Regions from separate parts of the Homo sapiens genome. Here regions 1, 3 and 4 are each linked to region 2. The links come from fine-mapping of genetic effects on gene expression. A gene starts in region 2. Each other region holds a variant in brackets. All regions are shown on one strand. Distances are between the middles of the regions.

Region 1 (5,142 bases), 28 kb after region 2:
TATAGAAATGCTGTCCCTTGTTCTGTCCTTGGCAGTCAGTCTTGGGGTGACTCTAGTGGGGTTGAGGCCATGTCTCACCCCAGGCCACCCTCTGGGTGCTCGCAGTGGCCAGTGTGTGGGGGTATGTGTGTCCATCCATAGCTGGATGTGTGCCCTGTGCTCTCCGCCTGGGGCTGCGTTTCTCCCTGCCTCCAAGACCAGTCTCCCTGGGCTTGAGCAGGGCTTCTTTTTCCCTCTGGAAACTCCCCAGGCTGAATCATGGAAATCAGAGACGGGACACCCTCCCTTCCACCCCATTGCCCAGCTTGGTTCAACCACCATAGCCTGTGGTCTGCTTTGCCCACCATCAGCCTGTCTGCGTATTTTGCCTCACTTGGAGGCAGGCCAAGGAGACCGGCCCACCAAGGTGGGGGGGAGGAGACAAGGGCCGGGATGTCAAGTGCTGCATGGAAGCGTGGAAAGTGGTGCATTGAGCCAGGGTGTGCAGCTCTGCTGGGCCAGTGTTGGGGGTCCTGAAACGCAGCCTCTTCCACGAGCCTCCCTGGGCAGGCAGAATGGCTGCAAGGCTGGTCAGCCAGCAAGGAATGGCGGGGATGGTGCCTTGGTCAAACCCTGCCCTTGGTAGTGGTGATGGTTGCACAACTTTGTTGATTTACTAAAAATCATTAAATTATATGTATACTTTAATGTGGCAGAATTTTATAGTATGTAAACTATACCTCGATAAAACTGTTTTTTAAAAATCCTGCCAGCCAGGCGCAGTGGCTCACGCCTATAATCCCAGCATTTTGGGAGGCCCAGGTGAGAGGATTGCTTGATCCTCATAGGAAGACCTCATCCCTACTAAAAATTAAAATAATAATAATAATAAAAATTCTGCCCTTGGCCTCAAGGCCCTGCACAACTGGGACCCTGACAGCCTCATAGACACACCTCACATCTTCTTCCCCACCTGCTTAGGCTCTCTTTCATGCCTTTGTCCCCTCTCATTGCTTCTCCTTATCCTTAACTCTCAAACTAGCAGTCCCTTCCTCCAGGAAGGCCTCAGATAGCTCATTGTGTCCCCTTCCGGCTCTTGTTTCACGCTGGTTCATGTGACTGTGGGCCCAGCTCCTGTGCACTCCTGGAAGGCAGTGCTGGGGTCTGGGTCTGTGTGCTCTGCTGTCTCTCCGGTATCATAAGGTACAGGGCTGCTGTCGAGGTAGGTGCAGGGAAGATGTGTGCAAAGGAATATCTAGAACATCCAGCTGTGGGCCACCTGTGTACATGTCTGTGTGCAGATGGCACTATGTCATCCCAGGATGTCCCCTCCTTCCCAGTGCTTTCTGGCCCGAGAGTTCAAGATTGAACCCTGCGGGGGGTGAAGTGAGGCTCTTCTAGGGCTGAGGGTTGAATAAGGGCACTGCCACCACCTCCAGTGACCTCACTGCCAGCTGGCATTATGATGTCACTGGCTTAGCATTCCAGGCCCTGGGCATCTCCAAGTGCCCCAGGTGGGGGCACTCTCCTGGGGTCTGTGACAGCTTGCCCCCAACCACGGAGAGGTGACAGGCACGGTAACAATCCTGGGGAGTGAGAGCAGCCTTAGGGGTACCTAGGTCACCTGCCTTGGGCCACTCTGTCAATTGCAAAAGTGGCCACAGAACAGGGTGACTAACACTTGGGCTCTGGGTTCAAGCTCTACCCCTGCTAGGCACCAGCTGTTTGACCTGAGGCTGACAGCTTGAACCTCTCTGAGCCTAAATTTCCTCATGTCTGAAATTGGCAAATAGTTTCTGTCTCCCGGGGTTCTGGGGAGGCATTCAGAAGCTAAGACATGTAAAGCATAAAAGCACAGGGCCTGGGACACAGTAGATACTCAGTAAATGCTGGTTGATAGGATCCGTTGGTTAAGGAAACCAGAGTGGCAACACAGGTGGTGGGGGCTGGCTAGAAGGGGGCAGGCTCCGTGCCTTCTGGGGCTGGCCAGAGCCTTAGGGTAGAGGCACGGGGTGGCCTCCACTGCCAGGAAGGTGGCCCCAGGTATGAGTCTC[C/CCT]CTCCTTCCAGCTCAGCCAGTTAGCTGGAGCCTACAGGAGGCATTGGGCCCTGCAGCCATGCTCTGGGGCCAAGAACCCATTACCCCCCACCTCCTCCTCGGTACTCCCCAGTCCTCCTCCCCAGCCTCCTCCCCACCTCCTCCCAAGTCCTCCTCCCCTGTCTTCTCCCCACCTCCCCCCAAGCCCTCCTCCCCACCTCCTCCACAGTCCTTCTTGCCACCCTCCTCCCCACCTCCTCCACAGTCCTTCTTGCCACCCTCCTCCCCACCCTCCTCCCCAGCCTCCTCCCCCCAAGCCCTCCTCCCCACCTCCTCCCCAGTCCTTCTCCCCACCCTCCTCCCCAGCCCTCCTCCCCAGACTCCTCCCCACCCTCCTCCCCAGGCCTCCTCCGCAGATTCCTCCCCATCTCCTCTCCAGCCTCCTCCCCACCTCCTCCCCAGCCTCCTCCCCACCTCCCCCCAAGCCCTCCTCCCCAGGCTCCTCCCCATCTCCTCCTCAGTCCTTCTCCCCAGTGTCCTCCCCACCCTCGTCCCCAGCCCTCCTCCCCAGACTCCTCCCCATCTCCTCCCCACCTCCTCTTCTCAGGCCTTGGGCTACACAGTGGGTCTGATCTGGTCTCCTCGCCACTTCTCCTCTACCCTTCCCTCTGCCTCCCTCTCCTGTGGGCATGCCCAGCTGCCTTCTGGGATTCCCTCCTTAGGGCTGTTTCCTTGTCTTTTAGACCCTCAAGTCCCTGAGCCTGGACAAGGTGTCCTGGGTCCCTGGGTCTCTGAACCCTGTTACCCCAGACACTGCTTCCCATGACACTGTCTCCACTAACCTTGACCCTCTGCCCCTTCCTCTCCAGCTCCCCTTTTCTCTGATCCTCCCCTCTAGTTCTCTGTCTCATGATTCTGTCCCCACCACCTGTCTCTATTCTGCCCCCGCATGCCCCTCTGCCCCCCAGCTTTCCATGACTCGTCCCCCCTCAGCCCCCCGTGCTCTGTCCCCGCCCGTCAGCCCCTGGTCCCAGCTCCCGGCTGGCCGGCTCCTGCATGGACAAAGGGGTCCTTTGTGGGCTGACCGCGGCTGGCGGGGCGGCGGGGCGCTGGCTCCGCATTGCTGATGAAACGGAGCCCTTTGTTGTCCCTCCTCAGGCGCAGTATTTCTTTTTGGGGGCTGGATGTGTTCCTGGCAGGGCCGATGATGGATGCGCCCGCCGCCGCCCGCCTGCCCGCCAGCTTTCCCTCCCGCTCATTCCCGCTCCGCTTCAACGCAGCCCTGACTCCTCCCCTGCTGCCTGGGCACTGCCAGGCCCTTCCTGGCCTGGAAGGGGATGGCTGTGTGCCCTAGAGTAGAAGACTGGGACCTGGGAGAACGTCCCCTCTATGTCCTCCTCTTCCATGAGTAGGGCAAATGGGGCTTTTGGTCAGGGGTCCACTGGGACCAGGACATCAGTTTTTCCTAAGGTCTGAAGGAGAAGATGAGCCAGGTATCAGGGCCGATTTGGAACAAGCTTGAGGACCAGATGTTCATGTCTGTCTACTCTGGATTTGAAAACAGAGTTGTCCCTGTGAGCCAGTCCCTCCGTGTACCCACCTCCCTTCAACTTCTGTGGCTGAAAAACCATAGTGTTCTGCCTGCAGCACCTGTTTGGTGACATATCACATCCTCTGGTCCCAAGCTCAGTATGTCCCAGGACCTCAGAGGCTGGGGGTGGGTGGGCCCTGAAGAAGGATAGAATAGTGGAAGATCAGAGAAATTCCAAGAGAGGAACAGAACATGAGGTTTGGTCCCCACCAGGAGAGACTCAGGACGGAGACAAAAGCCGAGACACTCAGCCAGAGCGCCAGCCCTGAGCGCAGGCCGGCTGTGTTGGAAGGAGCTGACTTCTAATTGACCTGCCCGCCCCGCACGCAGAGCCAGATCCTGGAGCTGGGAGGAGGGAGGGGGTGAGCAGAGCAGGAACAGCGTTAATGCAGCTATCGATTTCTGCCACCAGCCAGCAGGCCGCAGAGGCGGGGGACGCACACAGGGGCTGGGGCGCAGCCTGCTCCCCTCCCCATCTCTGCAGCCCACAAGACACCTGCCTTCTGCCTTCTCCCCTCACCCAGTATCTGGGCTGCCGGGGTTGTCGTCCAGGGCAGGGCAGATGAGCTTAGTTGGGCAGGAGCTGGATGAGCTGACTTGACGGTTTTTGTCCCTGATCTCACTGACCCTGGTCCCCAACAACTAGCCAGGGTCACTGATTCCTGAAAGGGTCACCAGTCTCTGAGGAGAGGGGCTGAAAAGACCATCCTGGTCTTGGCCGTTATGAGGTGGGAGGGAACACAGCTATCCTTGGACACACATGGTCTTCTTGCTTCAGCTCTGACCTCTGATGCCCCCCAACCCAGCCTGGATTCCCTGCCAGGGCCCCCCGGCTCTGTCCTGGTGGAATCTGCCATCTTGCCCAGCTCTTCCTCCTCACCCATTTCCCTCTGCTAGGAAGGAGCCCTAGGTGGTCTGGTGCCCACTGGGGAGGGACAGGGAGTATCTGACTGTTGATGGCGGCTACTCGCCTCACCCTAGAGACAGAGCTTTTCCTTTCCCCACACCCGGTCCTCTTTGGCCACTCCTTAGTCCTGGGGAAGCCCCCCCTCCCCCCCGCTTGGGGCCTCAGTTTCCCCCTCTGTAAATGCAGAGGGTTGGACTAGATGCTCTCTTGGGACAGGCTTGAGTCCTGTGACTAGGGGGGTTTTGGGGTTGCCTGGGGACAAAGATCCAGTGTGTGCTGCCCTCAAGCCCAGGGCGTGATGGGGCCCGCCAGATGTGCGCCTCCCCCTTGAGCCTCCAGCTGCTCTGGGGCTGGGCCCTGTCCTCCCACCCCTCTCTTGGGGCATGCTAGGCCACAGCAGGCAGACAGGGAAGCAAGGCTGGAGAGCCGGGACTGATGAGGAAACCGCCGCCTTGCTCCATCTGGCCCAGTCCCTTCAGCTGAGGAGGCAGCTCAGACGCCTTAGCCTTGAAACCTGAGTAGAGCAGGCCCTGCCCCGGGATGGGCTGCCTTGGAAATATGGAGGTGGCCAGAGGACAGGCTCCTGCTGGGCTCCATTCCCTTGAGGGTCACGCCTACTCCTCAGTGCCAGC
Region 2 (5,142 bases):
ACAAGTCAACACCCCTTCCCTGAGGAAGCCATCACCACTGGGACCACCTGGCCTTCCTCCATTGCAGCCTGTGGATCCCTGGCCTCCCGCCTGAGTTGGGGGTGGGGGTGGAGGCATAAGTCTGAAAAAAAAGTGGGTAATAGTCAGCAGTTCCCTAAAGTAGAATTACTACCCACCCTCTGCCATGGACCCCAGCATAAAGCTTTTTGTGGGGCGTGCATGACCTGACTCTGTACTGGCGTTAGGCTTCAGGAGATCTGTGGAATAGAGTTTGACTTCATGGATCCTAACCCTCTGAGACCTGCTGCTGACTCCCAGGGAGCAGGTCCTCCCTCACAGTCTGTGCCTCAGCTTCCCCAGAAAAGGTAGATGGAGGTGAGTTAAATGCTTGGAGATCCTACACCTGGGCTTTTGCTTCCTTTTTCCTTGCACGGTCAGTGCCCAACACAGTGCCTGACATTCACACTGAGGCCCAGCATACCTATCTTTAAGCAGTTTGGAAGTGATCTTCTGGGGGTGATGGGCGTCTTAAAACGGTTTCCATAGCAAGCACCTTACTTTTACTCACATGGGATGTTTGTTTGGAGGGGGGCATTAAAAGGACTGCTGGCAAGGAGGAGAGAGACTAAACGCCTCCCCAAGGGAGCCATTTCTTGGCATAGTAGTTAAGGGAGACCACTTCTCAGCATTCGGAAGGAACTGGTTGGGAGCAGGTGTCCACGATGTCTGGGGAGGGGTCACTTCGTGTGGTCTTGGATATCAGGAGTGGCAGAGAGGCAACACATTCCAGATGAGCTCTGCCCTTTGACACCTCCCCCCACCCCACCCCGGCTGGGTCAAGGCCCCAAGGCCACATATAGAAGGCGTGGAAGGTGGGCACCAGCTGCTGCTGCCAGGAGATCCATGCTCCATAAGCCCTCGCGCCAGCCTCGGAGACAGCCAGGCTGCGCAGAGCAGAGGAGAGGAAGCAGCGAGGTGGGAGACAGTTTCGCTTCTCCCACCGAGGCCGCGCCTGTGGCTGCAGGCGCCCGGATCGCCACAGTTAACTCCCTGTTATCTGGGCCCCAATCGATCTCAGGCTGTAACGTTTAACCCTAGGCTGACTTCCCCAACCGCCCTCCCCCTCTCCCTCCCCTGCTTGGGTCTGGGGACTGCGTTTTCTTCGCCTCGCAGAGGAAGGTCGGCCTTGCACAAATCCGCCCCCACGAATCCCAAAGAATTGGAGAAAACTTCCACTTTGGGATTATATGCAGTTGGGATTATATGAGCCCGGGGCTTGCACCATGGGTACGTGAGGTGAAGACATCTGCAGCAGCAGGATTAATTAGCCTAAGATGGGCATATGGAGGCCACTGATGGAGTGAAAGCGGGATATGCGGGCCCAACTCTGTCCCCACTGGGCGCCTACTCTGGCAAGGCTGAGTTTTCCTTCTGTCTTTCAATCAGTACCTATTGAGCGCTGCTGTTCCAAGCATTGTTTCGGGTTTTGAGTGCGTAGGCCATGGTCTCAGGGCACCAAATGTACGTAGTCGTTTTAGCCCCGGGACTCAAGAGTTGAGGCTGATGCCTGCCTGAGAGATAAAATATCCTTTCTCGGATCAGTTTCCTCACCTGAGAAATGGGAACGGGAATCTCCGCCCCTTTTCTCCCGGGGCCCTAGTGCCCACTGAATCCATTAAGGAGCTCTTGGAAGGGTGGGGTCTTGGAACACGCGTCTACCTCCCAGGACCCTCGACTAGGAATCTCTGGCCCGCCGCGCACCTGAGCTGGGGGGCGCGGCCAAATTCTCCCTCCCGGTCCTCGAAGCTTCTGGCCCCGCTCTAGAGGGGGCAGAAAGATAGCAGATTTCCCCGGAGGTGCGTCTCTAAACCCAGACCGCCTCACCAAAGCGGGGAGGTCGTCCTTTTTTTTTTTTTTTTGTAAAGTTGCGGGAAATAGGCGAAGACGGGGCGCGCAAGGGAGCTGAGCCTGGGTGGACCGCGTCAGGGCGCGGGGAGCTCGAGGCGCAGCGGCTGCAGCTCCGGCCTCAGAGCCCGCGGCGTCCAAGTGGCCCGAGCTGCGCTGGGAGGGAGGCGGCGGGAGGAGGGAGGGGAGCCGAGGTGGAGGGGGTTGGGGGGAGGAGGGAGCGGCGAGTCCGGTCCGGGTTTTGCCGGCAGCCCCCGGGCAGCGTTCATAGCTCCTGCCCGGGCGGGCGCGCGGCGGCGGCGGCAGAGGCGGCTGAGCCTGAGCGGGGATGTAGAGGCGGCGGCAGCAGAGGCGGCACTGGCGGCAAGAGCAGACGCCCGAGCCGAGCGAGAAGAGCGGCAGAGCCTTATCCCCTGAAGCCGGGCCCCGCGTCCCAGCCCTGCCCAGCCCGCGCCCAGCCATGCGCGCCGCCTGCTGAGTCCGGGCGCCGCACGCTGAGCCCTCCGCCCGCGAGCCGCGCTCAGCTCGGGGGTGATTAGTTGCTTTTTGTTGTTTTTTAATTTGGGCCGCGGGGAGGGGGAGGAGGGGCAGGTGCTGCAGGCTCCCCCCCCTCCCCGCCTCGGGCCAGCCGCGGCGGCGCGACTCGGGCTCCGGACCCGGGCACTGCTGGCGGCTGGAGCGGAGCGCACCGCGGCGGTGGTGCCCAGAGCGGAGCGCAGCTCCCTGCCCCGCCCCTCCCCCTCGGCCTCGCGGCGACGGCGGCGGTGGCGGCTTGGACGACTCGGAGAGCCGGTAGGTGTCGGGCCACGGCCCTCCCTCGACCCCCCCCGGAGGCCGGCCCCCTCCCCTTCCCCGCCTACCTCCCTCTCCTCCCCCGGGGTTCGGTGCGCGGCCGGGGCCGGAGTTCGCTGCAAGTCGGCGGAAAGTTTGGCTGCGCGGGTTCCCCCGAAGTTCAGGTGCGGAGAGCCGGGGACGGGGAAGGAGGGGTCCGTATTTGGGAGGGGCGGGGGGCGCCCGCACCGTAAGCCGCGGAGCCCCGGAGCCTGGGAGACCTAGCGCCGGTGATCGCTTGGTGGCCGCTGCTATACCCAAGCCTCCCTAAGCCGCAGTATGCTCGGTCGCAGATCACTGAGTTCAGACAAAAAGAGGGGTTTTAGGGTCTGGGACGGCGGCTTGGGCGCCGTGGAGTGGGGCTGGGACGCTCCTTGCGGGGTGCCGCCCCCCTCCCCCCCACTACTCCAGTTCGCGGGCGCTGGGGCAGCGGGCGCCCGGGGTCCTCACCTCTTGGCGTTGGGCGGGCGCTCAGCCTGCGGGGGCGGCTGCTTGTAGATCTCTGGCGCGCACTCCCCCCATCAGACCCCGCTCGCAGCCCTGTGTTGAGGGGCGACGTTAACTGCTCTGGGCGCCCTCGACCACGCGTGGCTGAGCCTCCCCCACCACTTGGAAGAAGCGGCGGCTACTTCTGCATTTTTCCTCCGGCTCCTCGCCCCCGCTGCCCGCGGGGTGCCCGGCGGGCTGATGAAGTTTGACCTTTTTTTTCCATCAAAGTATCTCCCCCACCACCACGGTGCCCCGCGGCCCCTCCCTCCCTCCTTTCCCAGCCTTGGGGAGTCTTTTGAGCTGTCTCCCGAGCCCCGCGTGGGCCACGCAGCGTGCAGAGCCTGGGAGGGAGAATGGGGGTGTTCCTCTAGCTGCGGAACTGTGGGGGGCGTACGTCCCCGGCGCCTGCCACGCTGCACTGGCCCCAAATTTACCCATGAAGTTCGGCCCGACCCCCCTCCCCTTCGCTTCCCCGGAGCGGAGTGAGGGGCTGAACCGCCGCGAGAGGAATGTGTTAATTTTCTGGCTGGGGGAAGTTGTCCTCGCCCGGAATGGGCTGCTTTCCGGCGGGGAGCGCGGGGTGCGCCTGGCTTTGTTTATTTGTAGGATCGACGGAAAGCGAGTGACCCCGGTTTTTAAATGGGGGGCCACCTTCGGGACCTGTCAGAAGAGCTGAAACGCCCAAAGTGGGAGCAAGATCTCTTTTTGTTCTTTTTTCCCCCCCGGGAATCTGAAGGGGTGCGCGGAGTTGGGCTGGTGCCTCGGGCTGCAAGGAAGCACCAGTAAATTTGGGGGGTTCTGTAGTGACTCATTCGGAAAGACCCGCTCCCTGAAGTCTCCCGCGACGGGGGTCTGAAGGTTTGGCAACCGCGCCCTCCTTTGCCCCCTGGACTTTGGGTGGTCTGAGAGTCGCGCCTTCGGATGGGGGGGGAGCTAAGGGGGTGACCAGCGGACCAGACTCCTGACCCCCACCTTTCCTCGCGCGGCGGGCGCTGTTTGGAGCCCTTGGATTTGTGGTGGGCCCTGTCCCCCCCACCCCCGCATTTTCTTTGGAAGCGTTGGGGAGGGGGCGTGTGTGAGATCGCTCGGCCCTCGCCCCCGCCGGAGCCGCCCCAGGGCCGCCGGCAAACAGAGTCCCTTTCAAGTTTTCCGCTGGGGCCGCCTGGCGGGGGCTGCGAGCGCGGTCGCTGCGGACTTGTTTGGAGCGCGATTTGAACGCCCGGCTCCACCTCAGCTGCCCCAGGCCGCGGGGTGGGGGGCGTCTGTCCTTTGCAGTTGGGAGTATTTAAATTAGACGTCTTGGGGGACCTACTGGCCTAAGCTTCACCTGATCCCCCTCCTGAAAGATGCCCGTGCCTTGGTTTCCAACCGCCACTAGAAAACCGGGAACTGAGACCGAAGCCCCCTCTAAACCCCTTTCTGAGAGCCGTGCGGGGAAACTCAGGCCGGCGGGCTACCTACCCGTAACTGCGTATTGTTGATTTAGCAGTTTCCCTAGATGAGAGTCAGGCTGGAGCTTGGGGGGGTGGGGAGTGGCCCGCTCTGCAGCTGTCACCCCCCTCCCAGAACGGAAATTGTCCTCTCCTTGGGGAGGAGGGAGAGGGGGTGATGGTTTGATTTTTGCCCTGGGAAGAGATGGGAACAGCTGAAGGAGATTGGCCTCCGAGTTCCCAGCCAGCCCCCGGAACTTGGGTAGAACCCCCCTACCCCTCATCCTCGCAGTAGCTGGGTCTCTCCCAGGGACGCCCCTAGTCAGCCTTGGCCTCCCTCTCCATGCCACCTCCCTTTCCAAGGTGAGCCTCTGCAGAAGACAGACCCTTGGCTGGCTGGCTGTCGGGTTGGTGCCTTATTTATGTGTGTATCTGGTCCTGGCCGTTTTCCCCGCTCAGCAGGTGACCCTGGCCAGGGCCTCCTATC
Region 3 (5,142 bases), 60 kb after region 2:
GCAGCAATGCCTCCTTTCCCTTCTCCTCAACCTCAGGCTCCCAGGCAGGCTCCCAGATCGGGGGTAGTTCCTGCCGCACTGCTCTGCATGTGTGTGTGCGTGCTGCCTAGGTTTCCTGCCCTGACCCACCACACTTCCCCCAGGAAGGGATGGAGGGGAGGGAGGGGCAGAGATGAGGGCAGGAGCCTTCCCATCTCCCTCACCAGCACACTGGAAGTAGACAAGCTTATGTGGAGCCTAAATGGGTCCCCCAAGAACCCTACCCCCTGGTCTGGGTCGGCAGGTGGGTGGGCTTAGGAGCCCAAGAGGGGGAATAGGGTGCCAGCGCCAAGGCCTCTGTACATTTTGATGTTAGGTGAACAGCATGCAAAGCAGATGCAAATATTATGCAAAGTAGAACTTTCTTTTTCTAGTCCACAGCTCTGAGGTTCTCTGAAATGGGCTGAAAGGGGGGCCCAGAACCCAAGGGGAGGTGTGGAGGTGAGGGCAGGTATCATCACTGCTTTGTCAAGAGGTTGCCACACTGAAGTATACCTACTGTGTACCTAGAACCCGGCTGGGCTTGATTCAGCCTCTGTCCTTGAAAATTCAGGCACACAGGGAAGTCAAGGGCAGAAGGGGCAGATCCATCTCTACAGGATGTCGGTTGAAGGCCTTTAAGAAGCATTTGTCCATTAAATGACATATGAGGCCAGATAGCAGAATGGCTAAATTCTCCTGTTCTGGCTTCAGCCAGGCCTGGGTTTGATTTCCAGCCCTACCACTTAATGGCAGATCTTGGGCAAGGCACATCACCTCTGGAAGTTTCTGTTTGTTTACTCATACATTAAGAACAATGATTGTGCTGGGTGCAGTGGCTCATGCCTGCAATTCCAGCACTTTGGGAGGCTGAGGCAGATGGATCACCTGAGGTCAGGAGTTCAAGACCAGCCTGGCCAACATGATGAAACCCCATGTCCACTAAAAATACAAAAAAATTAGCCGGGTATGGTGGCAGGAGCCTGTAATCCCAGCTACTCGGAAGACTGAGGCAGGAGAATCGCTTGAACCTGGGAGGCGGAGGTTGCAGTGAGCTGAAATCACGCCATTGCACTCCAGTCTGGGCAACAAGAGCAAAACTCCATCTCAAAAACAAACAAATAAACAAACAAACAAGAAAAACCAGCTGGGCGCGGTGGCTCATGCCTGTAGCCTGTAATCCCAGCACTTTGGGAGGCTAAGGCGGGCGGATCATGAGGTCAGGAGTTCAAGACCAGCCTGGCCAACATAGTGAAACCCCTCTCTACTAAAAATACAAAAATTACCCAGGCATGGTGGTGCATGCCTGTAATCCCAGCTACTTGGGAGGCTGAGGCAGGAGAATCACTTGAACCTGGGAGGTGGAGGTTGCAGTGAGTCGAGATCACGCCACTGCACTGCAGCCTGGGTGACAGCGCGAGACTCTTTCGGAAAAACAAAAACAAAAAATTGTACCAATCTCATGGGGTGGATGGGGTGGTTGTAAGGACTCGATGACATGTATGTGTGACATTCACGGACCAGAGCAAAGTGCCTGGCCCTGGGTAAAGTTTCCATAAATGGGAGTTGTAATTTAGGCCTCCACCCCGACCCCTCTACCTGCCCTGCTCAGCTCCTTCAGCTCCTAGAGCCTAAAATGCCATAACTAACTGCAATTCAGGAAAGAGTCTAGGCCTCTGCCCGAGGGCAGGGCCTGCATTTGCTTTTGTCTGTCCCCACCACTACCCTGGGCCCTGGAGGGTCACTCAACTGATTGAATGCGTGATAACTGAATGGTCTCAACTCTTCAGGCAGGCAGTGGGGGAGGGCTCACCTTGAGACCTTTGAGCAACTCTTACTGTAACCAGAGGATGGAGAGTTAGGGTCCTGAGATGAGGAGGATCCCAGCAGACGGTTTAGTGAACAAGGACTGGGTCGGTCTCTTCCCAGTGACCTCCACCCCCTCAAACAGCCTTCCAAACAAAGGTGTGTGAGGGGAGCAGTGGTTGATGGGAGGAGGAGCTTCTACCCTTAGCAAATGAAAACAAAGCCAGAGGTCGGGTGGAAAGGCCAGGCTGTGTGTTGAGGACTGTTCTGGTACTAAGAGGCAGGTGTGTGGGGGTGGGTGGAGTAGCAACAACCCCCACAATAACAGCCAACATCTATAGAGCACCTACTCCTCCCAGGCTCAATGCTAAACACTTCCACCTTACATCATACTCAAACCTCACAATGACAATCTGGATTATGATCCCATCCTTTTCTTTTCAAATGCTTGAGGAAATTGATCTAAATGTTTACCCAAGGTCACTCAGCTAGTAAATATCACTACTGGCATTTCAACCCTGGCTTCTTGCTCCATAGCTTTATCCTTAACCTCTTAAGCTGGGCCTCCATGCTCCCAAAGACCGACCTAGGTTCAAATCCGGCC[T/C]GTTTCAGCAAACTTCTATCACTCTACCTCACCCACACATCCAATTCATCTGCCAAAATATCTCTAAGCCAGCAACCTCTCCACCACCATCTTTCCCTCGCTATCCCAACCCCCAGCCCCTCCTCCCAGGTCTCCCTGCTTGATCCTTTCCACTGGTCTACAGGGTGGCCAGGGGGATCTTTAAAAAGTTTAAGTCAGATCTCCCAGCTTAAAACCCACTGAAGGCTGCCATGGCACTTTGCATAAACCCTGGCCCCTCAGGGGGCCTGCAAAGCCCAGCCCTATAGGCATACCCTTTGGGCTTACAAAGGCCTTCCCCTCACCTTCAAGAGGCACGTTCTTTGCAGCCTTGGAGCCTTTGCAGCCTTGGAGCCTCTGTGCCTGCTGTGCCCTCTGCCTGGCATGCTCTGCCCCCTCTCCTTTGCTTGGCTGGCTTTTCCTGGTCTTTCAGGCTCCAGCTCAGATGTCTTCTCCTCAGAGGCCTCCCCTGACGACAATAGCTCATATGGACCCCTCCCTGAAGTCAGTCTCACATGACCTACTTTAATGTCCTCATGGCTCCTCATGCTCTCTGAAGTGATCATGGTCAACTATTTGTTTACTTGAACGTGACTAGAACGCAAGTTCTGGGAGGCTGGGGACAAGACTGTGCTCTCGTGTTCCCATGGTCTAAATAGTGCCTAGCACGTAGTAGGCACTCAGTAAACATCTGAACAATATGTAGTTGGTGTGACCTGGATCAAGAAGTCCCAGCCTCAGCTTCCTTTTTCTGTTGGGCTCTGCCTTCTCTCAGCCTCCCAGGGAGGCTCTGGATGAGATCAGAGATGGCAAAACGCTCCCTCCGGGAGAGGGAGGGCACGGCGCCCGCCCGGGGATGAGGTCAGTGCAGCAGGCACCTCTCCTCAGTGCAGGAGGCAAGCAGAACCGCAAAGATCATCTTGGCCAGACCCATGACCCTGGAATCCCAGACGGGCAGGGCAGGGTAGGGCGCGCGACCTCTTCCCCTGGTGGGAAGGTCCTCCCGGCGGGGCCTCCTCTTCCCCTCCCCGGGGAGGCAGGTGGAGCTGCGTCCTCATCTTTGTTCCCATCTGGAGCGCGTTTGGCGCGGCGTGGCGGGGGCGGGGCTGCGCCCCCGCGGTGCCCGGAGAGACTGGCCCGCCCGCTTATCTGATCTGCGGCTAATTGAAACTCCCTGCTCGCGAAGGTCAGCTCGGTCCCCTGACAGCTGCCGAGCCGAGCCGGGCCGGATGGAAAACCCGGGCTGTGCAGGGCCCGGCGGGGCGCTGAGGGGAGGGGTTGTGGGGGGCTGCCTCTGCGGCAAAGTAGACAAAGGCGGCCCCTCCCTCCCTGTGCGCGCTGCTGGGGGTCGCCAGAGGTAGCGGCCTTCGCCCTCACCCTGCAGGGTGTTCCAGCCGGGGTCACATGGCCTAAGGCTACAGAGGAGGGGGGCGCCCTTAATCCCTACGTGCCCGCCCACCCCGCTCCCACGCCGGGGCCCTGTCTGGGGTCTCTGGGAGAGTCACCCCCAACTTCCTGCCCCCACCCCGCCTCCACGCCCCGGCTCTGAGACTTCCTGCCTCCCCGGCTCCGGGCAGCTCTGGCTGTGGGAAGCTGGCGGGGCGGGGGCGGCCCGATCCCCTCCCTCTGTGCACTCGACGGGGCGCTGGGGGTCCGGGAGGAAGTGTGCACGCTGGGGGGCACGGCTCAGCCCAGAAGCCGCCATCCGGTGGGTCAGGTGCGGCCTCAGCCTAGGAGGGCGGGCGGGCAGGCCTGTTGCTAATGGTGCTGGGACGGGCGTGGGGGGGCGGGGGGATGGTAGCGGGGGAGCCTCTGGGAGCCCCGTTTCCAGGGTTCCGGGTGCGGACGTGGCGAGCTCTGGAGACTGCAACCCCGCCCGCCGCGCCCCAGGCTGGCCCAGTCCCTAAGCAGCCCGCACGCGCCTCCCACTAGCCGCCTGTGCGCCTAGGCTGAGGTGCTGGGGAGCTCCCGAGGCGGAACTCCTAGCCTCCGGGCTAAGCGCGCGCCCCTATTCAAAGTCTTTAGGGCCTTGGCTTTCACAGCCAAGAAGAAATAACTCCAACCACAGATTTTCAGAACCACGTGCCAAACACCATGATAGGCGTTGAACGTATTTTGTATCAATTAGGCCTCACAACAATTCCATTTTGCTGATGAGGAAGCTGAGGCGCAGAGAGGTGGTGACTTGGCCGAAGTCACACAGCTAGTAAGTTATCGAGGCGGGGCTGGGCTCTGACTCCAAAGCCAGCGTTGTTAGCCTCGGGTGGTCGCGTCTTAGCAAGAGCTCTGCAGTTGTGCGCCAATATAGGTCGATTACCCAGGGCATCCACGAATGCAGAGAGCCCCTTGGCGGCGTCTTGCCGCACGTGTTCTTGTCTTGGGGTTGGGCACGTGTTTCGTGGTGCAGTCCCGCGTGTTAGAGCCCGGGGACAGAGGTATAGCCTAGCGCACTGGTGCCCAGGTGCGCCATTCGCGGTTGGGACCTGGCAGAGTCATATGGCTGGGGCCTGAGCCGCGAGCAGGGCGGAGCGGGGGCGGAGAACTCGGAGCTGAGTCCACGCGGGCCGCGGCGCCTGGGAGGCCGCAATCCCGGCGCCTGCAGCCGGCGAGGCGCGGGGTGACGCGCGGGGGCCCAGCTACCGTGACCTCCTCCGCGGTTGCCATGGAGACCGTGCACTATAAATAAAAAAAAAAAA
Region 4 (5,142 bases), 980 kb before region 2:
GGCACCATAAAGGGATTGTTCCATAGCCCTTGATTTCAATGTCCTGCTTCCTCCTATTTCTGGGACAGCCTCTTTAGCATTTTCTTTGATTCTGTGAGCCACCCTCATTTCTTTCTAATACGATCATTTTTTGCTTAAGTTAGCTAGAGTTTTTCTGTTGCTGGAAACCAAAGCCTCCTCACCCATACAAATTTCACCTTCTTAGAGGAGCAGAGGGATATGCCCCTGTGGTGGGCTCATATTTGGAGTCTCTGGCAGGGGTTCAAATCTCACCTGGTCCTGGAATGAGAGGAAAGAGAGCCCTGCTGCTAGTGGGTGCTGTCACACCTCGCCTCAGGCCAGTCTTTGTGGCCAGTTTTGCCAGGATCCACTCCCAGCCTAACCTCCAGGTCTCAACACTGAGCCCACAGCCTGAAATAGCTAAGTTTACCCCCATGACTCCCTATCACAAGTGCTACAAATGGCTCAGGCTGGTGTCATGGTTATTTTCCACAAATAGCCATCTCATTCCTGTGCTGTGCCCTTGCTCGTGGTGTTCTGGGACACCTTATCTCAGGGTAAGCTGGGCCCCCCGTGCCCTCTGCCCCGGCCCCTCCCGTGCCTTCAGACCTTAGGCCACATCCTGCCTCTTCTGAACCAACACTTCACTGGGTTCCCTCTGATGTGGGATGGGCAGAGCAAGTGATTTGTGTGGTTGAGCTCTGTTTCCTTTGTAGACTTTAGTCTTTGAGGACTTGACTACAAGCTCCAAGTGCCTTGTTACTTTTCTTGCTTGGACCTCAGTGTCAAGCAGGAGGCTGGGCACACAGTGAATGATCATGTTGATTTCTCCACCCATAGTTTGAAAATTGTTCCCACCCTGTGATTCATATTCTTCATTCATTCATTTACACATTTATCAAGCACCTACTAAGTGTGGGTTCTGCCCTAAGTGCTGGAGGTACACACTGAATAAAACATAGCCGAGGAATTCAGTCTCATGGTGAAGATTTATTGAGAATTAATTGTAGCAGAATGACCTATTGAGGAAATAACCATGTCTAGTTTTTCTCAGCTGCAGGCTCACCTAAAAAGAATGAAAGGCATTTCATCCCTGGGGCGAGGGGCAGGAGAGAACCAGGCTTCATGTCCTTGAAGTGTGGACTTTCTTGACCCCCATGAGGATTGGTGTAGTTCAGAGTAGAAAAGAGAAGCTGCAAGCAGCAGGATACCCAGAAGACAACTTCCAAACAGACGTTTTAAACAAAGATTAGGATTGGAGGCTTAATGCTTCCCAGATTAAAGTGGGATGGTCTCAACTCAGGAGGGTTAGTTGGAACTCTCAAGATCAGAAAGGGAATGAAGGTATGAATTCCATCGATGGCAGAAACCTGCACTCATGAGGATGCATCCTCTGAGATGGGAGGACCTAGGAGGAAGAATATTTGGGTGACCACATGTGTGATAATAATAATAGACAGCATTTAGTGCATACTTACTGTGCGCCAGGAGGCACTGTGTTAAGCATGTTGTACGTATTCACTTATTTCTCACAAGAACCCTGTGAAGTAGGTACTATCATTGTTTCCATTTGACAGATAAGGCAAAGAAAGATTAAGTGAACTTCCTAAGGTTATGGATCCAAGAATCAAACCCAGGCGATCAGATTTCACTGAGGGCCATGTATGCCTATGAGGGCTGAGCACAAAGGGCTATAGTTTTGGGAGCCTTTGTTCTCAAAGGACACCATGACTGAACTTGTCACAGAGGAGGTGGGGCTGCAGCCCCCACCTGCAGATGTGCTTCACAACCAGGCCGGGCATACATATTAGCTGTGGCAACTGGCCACAGCCGATGGCCAGTACTGAAGGACATGGTAATCTTGGTAAGAAGGGGCTTGTATCAGTTAACCATAGTCCCAGTAATGAGTGCGGTAGAACAATCACAAAATTTCAGCAGCATACAACAGTGTTTATTTAGTGCATGTGTTTGGGGACCAGCTGGGGTTCATTGCTATAGGCCAGCTTTGGCTGGCATGGGTTGGCACCACTCTATGTGTCCCTCATCCTCCTTTCATGACCAGCAGGCCAGCCAGGGGACATTCATGGAGATGGCAGAAGTACCCCAGCAACAGTCCCAGTGTGCACGCCCATTTTAAACCTCTGCTCATGTCACATCTGCTAAAATACTGCTGCTCATGGCAAGTCACATGGCTGAGCCGAGGCAAGGTATGGAGAAATCCACCCTGCTCACAGTTACTGGGTAAAGAATGTGGATAGATAACCCTATTACCCAGGAGGGGGTGAAGAGATGGAAGCAAAATCTAGCATTCCACAAAACTTAAACTGGATTTAATTTTGATTTCAAGAGAGAATGAAATGCTACGTTATGTTGTGGAGCAGTTCATGCTTGTTATAAAATCTATCTTCGGGGACCACAAATTTTACCATGAGAATATTTAAATTTTAGTTTTTATTTTAGTGAAAATCTTAAAATAACTTTTAGCAAGAACATATTTTGGGTGGTCTAGAACAGCGGTCCCCAACTTTTTTGGCATCAGGGACTGGTTTCGTGGAAGACAATTTTTCCACAGACGGAGGGAGGTTTTAGGATGAAACTGTACTCAGGCATTAGATTCTCATAAGGAGCGCACAACCTAGACCCCTCGCCTGTGCAGTTCACGATAGGGTTCGCGCTCCTATGAGACTCTAAGGCCGGTTGGAGCGTGGCTCACGCCTGTAATCCCAGCACTTTGGGAGGCCGAGGTGGGTGGATCACAAGGTCAGGAGTTCAAGACCAGTCTGACCAACATGGTGAAACCCCCTCTCTGCTAAAAATACAAAAAATTAGCTGGTTGTGGTGGCGGGTGCCTATAATCCCAGCTACTTGGGAGGCTGAGGCAGGAGAGTTGCTTGAACCTGGGAGGTGGAGGTTGCAGTGAGCCGAGATTGCATGCCACTGCACCCCAGCCTGGTCAGCAGAGCAAAACTCCATCTCAAAAAAAAAAAAAAAAAAAAAAAAAAGGAGAAAGAAGAATCGAATGCCACTGTGACCTGACAGGAGGCAGAGCTCAGGCTGTAATGCTTACTTGCCCACCACTCACCTCCTGCTGTGCAGCCCAGTTCCTAACAGGCCAGGGACTGGTACCGGTCCGCAGCCTAGTGGTTAGAGACCCCTGGCCTAGAAGACTATGGTAGTTTGGTAGTTGCCTTACAGTTTTCAGAGCCCCAGTGATCTGCTACAGTGCCAGCATTTAA[C/CTT]TTTTTTTTTTTTTTTTTTTTTTTTGGAGACAGGGTCTCCCAGGCTGGAGTGCAGTGGTATGATCATAGCTCACTGCAGCCTCTAACTCCTGGGCTCAAATGATTCTCCCACCTCAGCCTCCTGAGTAGCTGGGACTATAGGTGCATCACCATGCCCCTCTATTTTCTTTTAAAAAAATTTTTTTTTTTTTTTTTTTTTTTTTTTAGAGACAGTGTCTCTCTGTGTTTCACAGGCTGGTCTCGAACTCCTGGGCTCAAGCAATCCTCCCTCATCAGCCTCCCAAAGTGCTGGGATTACAGGTGTAAGCCACCATGCCCAGCCTAGCATTTAACTTTTCAGTGCAGCTTTCTCAAACCAAGACCTGTATTCTCAGGGAGCCATGCATTTCCAAGGTTGGAAAACTTTGGTGAGAATGATACACAGCAGACAATATATAGAAAAGGCCCAGAGACAGAGGCATTTAAAGGTGAGGGGGCCTAGGACAGCTATGGGGTCTCTGGGCAGGGTTTATGGTGCTCTGCAGAGAAGCACTGGTAGCATTTGAATAGGTCTTGAAGGATGGCAGAGTGGGGTCCTGGGGATCTCCAGGTTCCTTCTTCTCTGAGTGGACATATCAGATACTTGTCTCTAGGGCTTCTGGACCACAGCCTTGTCCTTCACCTCACATCTATGCTACTGGCTATAGCATTTGAAGGAGAGGCTGAGGAGTATAATGGCTGAACTTTCTGGCTTTGGAGCCAAGTCAACCAGGGTTCAAATCTTGACTTCAGGACGGACGTGATGTCTCACCCCTGTAATCCCAGCACTTTGGGAGGCTGAGGCAAGCTGATCTCTTGAGCTCAGGAGTTTTGAGACCAGCCTGGCCAACATGGTGAAACCCCATCTCTACAAAAAATACAAAAAATTAGCTGGGCACGGTGGTGTGTGCCTGTGGTACTTGGGAGGCTGAGGTGGGAGGATCACTTGAGCCTTGGAAGTGGAGGTTGCAGTGAGCCAAGATGATGCCACTGTACTCCAGCCTAGGTGACAGAGCCAGACCCTGTCAAAAAAAAAAAAAAAAATCTTGGCTTTGACATTTACTAGCTCTGAGCCCTTAGGCAGGTTGCTTGATTTCTTGGAGCCCGTTTCCTCATCTGAAGATGGGAATTATAACACTCTCCTGGGGTGTTTTAAGAATTAGAACTTGGCCAGGCACAGTGGCTCACGCCTGTAATCCCGGCACTTTGGGAGGCCAAGGCGGGCAGATCACTTGAGCTCAGGAGTTCGAGACCAGCCTGGGCAACATGGCGAAACCCCATCTCTTCAAAAAATACAAATATTAGTCAGGCATGGTGGGGCGTGCCTGTAGTCCCAGCTACTTGGAAGGCTGAGCCTGGGAGGTGGACGTTGTCATGAGCCACGATCGCGCCGCTGCACTCCAGCCTGGGTGACAGAGGGAGACCCTATCTCAAAAAAAAAAAAAAAAAAAAGATTAGAACTTGCCAGTGAAGCCTGAGATTTTCTTCCTGGAGCATGTTTGACTTCTGATTTCATTTCCTTAATGGTTATAGGATTATCCTGATTCCTGTGTCAAGGTGAGTCAGTTTTGCTAAGTTATGTATTCAACCAATTTGTCTATTTCGAATATACCCTTCAGTTTTATTGGCACAAAATTATTCACAATATCCTCTTATTTTATTTTTAATGCCTGTAACATCCATAGCAATACCTTTCTTTTCATTCCTGACTTTGAATATTTTTGCCTTCTTTCAACTTTTTCTTCATCATTATCACCAGGGATTTATCAATTTTCACACAATTGGCTTGTGGCTAGCTTAGCTGATCCTCTCTGCTGCATGTTAGTTTTCTGTTTCTTCAATTTCTGTTCTCCACTTTGTCATTTCCTTCCCTCTACTTTGAGTTTAT

Which allele goes with the higher level. Alleles are on the strand shown, and positions count from the first base shown. SD is a standard deviation of normalised expression in the study named. Not every link is listed here.
For the expression in macrophages of the gene that starts at base 2,201 in region 2, C is the high allele of the variant in region 4 and CTT is the other (large effect, 1.4 SD a copy in Nedelec 2016).

What was found. PIP is the estimated chance that this variant, and not a neighbour inherited with it, causes the effect.
Region 1: its variant is fine-mapped to the expression of CXXC5 in whole blood (TOPMed, PIP 0.95).
Region 3: its variant is fine-mapped to the expression of CXXC5 in whole blood (TOPMed, PIP above 0.99).
Region 4: its variant is fine-mapped to the expression of CXXC5 in macrophages (Nedelec 2016, PIP 0.95).

Annotation. Positions count from the first base shown.
Region 1 is chr5:139,673,983-139,679,124 of GRCh38, forward strand. All of the region lies in intron 1 of CXXC5 (CXXC finger protein 5), which reads left to right. Among named protein-coding and RNA genes, the nearest start is that of CXXC5-AS1, 27 kb to the left of the region's middle. RefSeq lists enhancers at 228-781, 4,792-5,142. The variant C/CCT (reference allele first, on the strand shown) is at 2,034.
Region 2 is chr5:139,646,149-139,651,290 of GRCh38, forward strand. CXXC5 (CXXC finger protein 5) reads left to right here and starts at 2,201. Exons shown (of 3, transcript NM_016463.9): 1 at 2,201-2,697. CXXC5-AS1 (CXXC5 antisense RNA 1) reads right to left here and starts at 3,580. Exons shown (of 2, transcript NR_149086.1): 1 at 3,187-3,580; 2 at 2,851-3,033. RefSeq lists silencers at 2,129-3,258, 3,459-3,628 and an enhancer at 4,421-4,921.
Region 3 is chr5:139,705,812-139,710,953 of GRCh38, forward strand. LOC124901085 (a long non-coding RNA gene) reads left to right here and starts at 4,091. Exons shown (of 2, transcript XR_007058963.1): 1 at 4,091-4,163. RefSeq lists enhancers at 3,429-4,419, 4,664-4,713 and silencers at 3,904-4,273, 4,994-5,093. The variant T/C (reference allele first, on the strand shown) is at 2,429.
Region 4 is chr5:138,668,125-138,673,266 of GRCh38, forward strand. No RefSeq gene overlaps it. Among named protein-coding and RNA genes, the nearest start is that of CTNNA1, 83 kb to the right of the region's middle. RefSeq lists a silencer at 620-669. The variant C/CTT (reference allele first, on the strand shown) is at 3,237.